Linked DNA regions of Homo sapiens. The protein of the gene in region 2 purifies or fractionates together with the protein of the main gene of each other region. This does not show direct contact. Each region holds a gene or a part of one and is shown on either strand. Other genes may lie near its edges.

Region 1 (2,975 bases), on a different chromosome or scaffold from region 2:
TGGCCTTTCCCTCCTCTAAGTGGCTCTGCAGAAGGTGCTCGTGGTACTACCAGAGACTGACCTTCCCAGCTGGTGGTCTAGCTCCTCCCTTGTAGCCCTTTTGTGCTGAAGGGAGCTGACTTGAGTTCCTGGCAGAGCTGGCCCCTTCCCCCAGATCTTGATGAAGAAAAACAAGGGGAGGGAGTGTGCCACGTCTGGGCAGCAGTGGCCTTTTCTGACTTCTCTGCTGAGCCCCAAGCAAAGGAAAGGGAGCCAGAGGCCCCACTCTCCCAGCATTGACTCACAGAGCTGTGAGACGAAGCCCTTGTGCAGAAACAGGGATGGCAGGAGTTCAGAACAAAAAATGCAGTGGGGCAGGGACAAAGGGCCAGGGCCAGTGTGTTGGAGGGGAGCAGGTGAGCAGGGCCCCATCCTGGGGCAGGAACACCTTACTGCTGAGAGCTTGCAAGAGACCAAGGCCCAGCTGGGAAAAGGGAAGAGATGAACGGCAGAGGCTCAAGTTGAGAAATCCAGATTTACTTGTGGCCTTTCTCCAGGGTGCCAGAGAAGACCAGCAGGCATGGGCGGATGGGGCAGCTGTGCTGTGGGTGAGTGAGTGGGTGTAATAATACCGGGTAACATTTGCGACGTACCAGGCGTTGGGCCAAGGAGCTTGCACACGCTGCCTTGGTCCTCACAGCAGCTGATGAGGCAGGTATCACTATCTCCATGTTACAGGTAAGAAAGCCAGCTGAAAGGCAGCAGGAACTGGCACAGGGTCACCCGGCTGGGAAGTAGAGCAGGGATGTGCCCCAGGCAGTCTGATGTAGAAGCTGCCTCTAGTCTATGAATCTTTGCCTCTGATGGATCAGAAGAGGGAGTCAGGGGAGTCCTTGGAGCTCCAAACACTGCTTTGAAAGCCACCCCTCAAAGAGCTGGAGAGTTGGAGAGAGAGGCTTTGGCAAGAGCTCAATAGAAACACTGTTTATTCAAATGACAGGCAGGAAGCGGTGGCAGCAGCAGGGGGGAAAGGGCAGCCAGGCAGGGGCTGGGCAGTGCTTCCCTGTGTCCCCTGCAATCCTGCTTGGACAGCCACCCGGCTGTTGGCATCAGGGTCAGAAATACTTTCCCTCCTCTCCCTCCTGCCCCAAACTGAATAAATAGCATCCCTCTCCCCACGAGAGCTAGGGGAGACTCATGTGCTGAGTTTGGTGCCCCAGTCACAGCCCAGAGTCCGGTGAGGGCAGAAGTTCAAAATGGCTTGTAGGGAGTAGAATACAAAACTGTTCTACTCATTCTCACCTTCCTCTTCCTCCTCCCTGCCACACTCCCCTCCCAGCCTGGTCCCAGGACAGGTGGTCGGTGAGGGTCTGGAGCGGGAGAATTGTTGCCTAGCATACACTGAGCTCAAGTTCACAAGGCCATCCAGCCTGTCACCCATCCGGGTTGACCACCAAAGAGAACGTCTCACTTCACGCCACTTTATGGACATAAAAGGAGGGGCAGGGAGGGAGGCAGTGGGCAGCCAGGCCTTTCCCAGCCTCAGAGGTAACCAGAGTCCGAGGAGCAGGCCCCCTACCGATCCATCTCGTCCAGGAGTGGGGTGGCATCGCCAGCAATGGACATGGGGGTGCTTTCGATCATGGGGCTGGGGGAGGGCCGAGGTGTCAGCCGCTGCTTCTGTTTCCGCCGTTCTGCCTCCTTTTCCTGCAGCCACTGCTCCGCCATTTTTCCCCAGTCGATGGCTGCATGGCTGTTGGACCTGGGAGGGGAAGAAAAGTTGAGATTGGGACTTTGCTAGAAGGAAGTCTTCCCACCAATCACTGTACCCTTGCAGAAAGGAACCTCATACCTATGGGCAGCAGCCCCTCTACTGGGATAAGGCAGATACAGCAGCAGCTGGCTGCCATACTGCCCTCTTCCGTCTTCACCCAGAAACTAGTGTTCCTGGCATATCATGTGGTCAGGGCCCTCAGAGGATCCAGAGCACCTGCCTCTGCTAAGCCTTTCGGCCTCTTGACAACACCTGCCCCTACCACTGACCTGCACTGTGCCACCATCCAGATACTTACTTTGGCTGCTGCTGCCGTTGCCGGGAGCTGGAAGAGGGCTGGGGCTGGGCCTGGGCCGACTGTGGGGTGGTGCTGGCCTGGAGCTGGTGGTACTGAGGGGTGGTGATGGGCTGGCTTGGGGTCGTGTAGGAGTAGCTAGGGGTCATTAGTGGTGTGGCCACTGGCTGCTGGGCTGGCGTTGGGAATACCTGGAGAGGCATGAACAGTTAAATAGGGATGGGTGTGGGGCTTGTTTGGCCTTGCTGTGAATTCTGGGTAAGCGCAAGGGTGGGCTCAGCAAAGCTTTCCAGATGATCTTCCACTGAGTATGTGCTTCTGACCAGCAGTGGGAAGCCTGCAGGTCAGCACCGAGCACACAGTGGTGCCCACTGGTCCTGACCATGTCAACTTTCTGGTGGCTTGCGGGTTCCAAAGATCCCAAAGGCCCGTGGAAAGGTTATGCCCTCTCTTACCCTCTTCCCCTTCAAATGGGCCTAAGGACAAGAAATATCTGTTGGAGACAGTTACCAAGGCCGTGGCAGCCCCATCTGTGCATGTGAAGCCCCTTGTGGGCAATGCGAGAGGGCAGTCTATGGGCCCCACCCTGCACAGGGAGCTTCCTCCCCAAGCCACATACGTGGTAAGCACTGCTGCCGCCTCCACTGCCGCCATAGCCGTACTGGCTGGAGGCCCACTGGGCTGGGGTGGCATTAGGGTTCTGTCCTTGGCCTGTCACCGCAGCAATGGCACTGAACATCTGTGAAGTCATGTTCTGAGGCAGGGCATTCACAGCCCGTGTCAGATCTGTAAGCACACAGAGGTGGGGAGGGGCATGTTAGAGGTGAAAGTCCCTTTAGCTCCATCCTTCCCACCTCCAGTCCCAGGCTCAAGCTCCTCACCTGCAAGGTTGATGTTGGCTGGGGTAGCATTGATAGAGGCAGGTGT
Region 2 (3,394 bases):
AAGGGATTTTTCTTTTTCAGATTACTGAGAGTCTTCCGTTACTAGGTAAGTCACCGCATCCTTATAACTCCAGGTGACACTGACTGGGGTTTATGGGATGAAAGAGGAGTGTGTGCTTGGATGATGGGGTGTGATAGTGAAGGGGTGAAAGGTTTCTTCTCACACATAGACATCGTGAGGTCTTCCTTGAGCTCTTTAGAGCCTTCCCTCGGGATAGGATGAAATACTGAGATCCTAGAAAGGATTCACAAAACGTGTCACTCATCAGCGCAGATTCACCGATTCACCCCTAGATGTGTGTGGGATTTGGATGGCAGAGAGAAACAGGCACTGAAGATTTTTGGTCAGGACAGGGCAGAGAAATAAGAAGAGTTGAAAATTCACCAAAGGATAGATAAACCCAGGGCGTTTAGAGAAAACCTGTAGTGTGCAAAGGAGCCCAGAATCCTGGGGCAACTTGGAGGGAAATATACTTAATTTGATTCACTAAGTTAGGCCCAGTGAAGGGATTGGGTGGCATAGGTAGAAGCCGAAAAATAAAGTATCTTGTATTGCTGGAGTAGCCTCTGTTTCTGAGGTCACATCCAAACTTAGCGAGGCAGCTTAACCTGGTGAGAGACATGGGTTCAACTCCTGGCTTCTGCACTGCTAGGGCAGAGGACTGCTGTTTGCTGACACAATCTTGGTGCGTTGGAAGTGAAAGGGAAGAGGCACTGGTGGCTGTGCTTTGGGCCCGAGCAGCCAGAAGCCAGTTGCCATCACCTATGACGAGGAGACAGCGCCTGGGGCAGAGCCCAGTATGGGGTGCGTTCAGGGTAGATCAGGAGGTATGAGTGGGTAGTGGGCGAGCCAGGCTGGGGGTTGTGGGGGAGGCCTGCATTGCAGGTGTAAGCGTGGGACCCACATCAGATTGGTAGTGGGTCATGCATGCTGGGCTGGCTCTCAGGTCCTCCCTGCTGGCTTCCCACTCCCAGGGGCTTTCTCCTCCGATTCCTTAGCTGGGTGAGGGGCGGGACAGAGCCCTTTCTTAGGGAAGCCCGGCACCCCTTGCTGTCCAGGGAAGGGGAGTCCTTCTAGCCCCTGACAGCTTCTCTGCCCCTCCCCTGGCCTCCCCAGGCCTAGCCAGGGCTGGGTTCTCACCCACCTGTGCCGCCCTGCCTTGTTACCTGGAAGCACAGCCTTGGGGACTGAGCAGGCCCTCACTGTCACTTTAAGAAGGGAATCAGCCACTTTGTGCTCACCACCTCTGGGGAAGGTGTGAGAGGAGAGAAGGAAGTGGCTGTTTGGCTGCTGACAACATGAAGACTTCCTGCGATGAGAACAGAGGCACAGGTGCCGGCCCTGCAGCCCCCAGAACCTGGACTGGAGGGGGCCATGGGGCACCGGACCCTGGTCCTGCCCTGGGTGCTGCTGACCTTGTGTGTCACTGCGGGTGAGTGCCGGCACCAGAGAGGGGCAGGGGCTGCAGGGAGGGTGATGTAGGACAACAGCCCACCGACCTTGCTGCTGTTCCACAGGGACCCCGGAGGTGTGGGTTCAAGTTCGGATGGAGGCCACCGAGCTCTCGTCCTTCACCATCCGTTGTGGGTTCCTGGGGTCTGGCTCCATCTCCCTGGTGACTGTGAGCTGGGGGGGCCCCAACGGTGCTGGGGGGACCACGCTGGCTGTGTTGCACCCAGAACGTGGCATCCGGCAATGGGCCCCTGCTCGCCAGGCCCGCTGGGAAACCCAGAGCAGCATCTCTCTCATCCTGGAAGGCTCTGGGGCCAGCAGCCCCTGCGCCAACACCACCTTCTGCTGCAAGTTTGCGTCCTTCCCTGAGGGCTCCTGGGAGGCCTGTGGGAGCCTCCCGCCCAGCTCAGACCCAGGTGGGGCCGGGGCGAGGGGTCCAGGAGGGCAGGGAGGGGCTCGGGAACTGGCCACCCATCTGATTCTTGTCTCCGTGCCCAGGGCTCTCTGCCCCGCCGACTCCTGCCCCCATTCTGCGGGCAGACCTGGCCGGGATCTTGGGGGTCTCAGGAGTCCTCCTCTTTGGCTGTGTCTACCTCCTTCATCTGCTGCGCCGACATAAGCACCGGTGAGACCTGGTCCCTGTCCACGTCCCCCTGACACTGGGATGGCCACATGCCCTGCAGAGCTCTGACCATCCTTGCTCTCTCCCAGCCCTGCCCCTAGGCTCCAGCCGTCCCGCACCAGCCCCCAGGCACCGAGAGCACGAGCATGGGTGAGGAGGGGACCTGCTTTGGGGATGAGGTGACAGGGGCAGGGGCAGGGGGGCCAGGGCTGGGCCCAAGCTGTGCAGACTCACTTGACCCTCCTTCCCCCGCGCAGGCACCAAGCCAGGCCTCCCAGGCTGCTCTTCACGTCCCTTATGCCACTATCAACACCAGCTGCCGCCCAGCTACTTTGGACACAGCTCACCCCCATGGGGGGCCGTCCTGGTGGGCGTCACTCCCCACCCACGCTGCACACCGGCCCCAGGGCCCTGCCGCCTGGGCCTCCACACCCATCCCTGCACGTGGCAGCTTTGTCTCTGTTGAGAATGGACTCTACGCTCAGGCAGGGGAGAGGCCTCCTCACACTGGTCCCGGCCTCACTCTTTTCCCTGACCCTCGGGGGCCCAGGGCCATGGAAGGACCCTTAGGAGTTCGATGAGAGAGACCATGAGGCCACTGGGCTTTCCCCCTCCCAGGCCTCCTGGGTGTCACCCCCTTACTTTAATTCTTGGGCCTCCAATAAGTGTCCCATAGGTGTCTGGCCAGGCCCACCTGCTGCGGATGTGGTCTCTGTGTGTGCGTGTGTGGGCACAGGTGTGAGTGTGTGAGTGACAGTTACCCCATTTCAGTCATTTCCTGCTGCAACTAAGTCAGCAACACAGTTTCTCTGATGTCGGCCTCGGCTGTGCTTCTTCTTTGGGGGTGAAGAGAGTGGGGAGGCAGTCTCCACCCCTGGGAGGCAGAAGCCAGGTGAGAACCAGAGTGGGTTGGGGCCTCATTGCAGGGCTGGGGTTGGCCCAGGGAGAGGGCAGTGTCCCAATCTTAGAGATCTGTCCTGGCTTCTCAGAGTGGCAGGGGTGTTGGGGGAGCTTCCTGAGGGACACCTGTGGCTGCCTAGATAGGGCTGGGGGATCCCAGTGGGATGGTCTCTGCTCCAATCCCACCATGTTCTAGGACAACAGCAAGGGTTCCTGGGGCTTTGGCCTGAGAGAAGTCCCTGTGGTTTGACCTGGCTTCCCTCTGCTGGGCTCCCTGCTGTGGCCTGGGCTGGGGTCCTGATGCCCTCCTTCCACAGCTGGCGTTAGGCAGGGTGTGGAGAGTAGGGGGACTCACCTGAAATCTTCCCTCAATCACTTCCCCCGCCTCCTCTCGGGGAAGGCAGAGGCCTTCACAGACAT

The links.
Region 1: the proteins of PVRIG (region 2) and SUPT6H purify together in Homo sapiens (affinity purification with mass spectrometry; 3 studies listed by BioGRID and IntAct, with this or other methods). This does not show direct contact.

What each region holds. Positions count from the first base shown.
Region 1 is NC_000017.11:28,700,205-28,703,179, reverse strand, and holds the end of SUPT6H (transcription elongation factor SPT6), read right to left. Parts: coding exon 2,930-2,975; intron 2,835-2,929; coding exon 2,668-2,834; intron 2,240-2,667; coding exon 2,052-2,239; intron 1,742-2,051; coding exon 1,555-1,741; 3' UTR 501-1,554; downstream 1-500.
Region 2 is NC_000007.14:100,218,597-100,221,990, forward strand, and holds PVRIG (transmembrane protein PVRIG isoform 3 precursor), read left to right. Parts: upstream 1-1,374; coding exon 1,375-1,432; intron 1,433-1,517; coding exon 1,518-1,868; intron 1,869-1,950; coding exon 1,951-2,077; intron 2,078-2,163; coding exon 2,164-2,224; intron 2,225-2,331; coding exon 2,332-2,655; 3' UTR 2,656-2,894; downstream 2,895-3,394. Other genes in the region: STAG3 (cohesin subunit SA-3), read left to right, coding at 21-77. UniProt on the Homo sapiens protein: Cell surface receptor for NECTIN2. May act as a coinhibitory receptor that suppresses T-cell receptor-mediated signals. Following interaction with NECTIN2, inhibits T-cell proliferation. Competes with CD226 for NECTIN2-binding.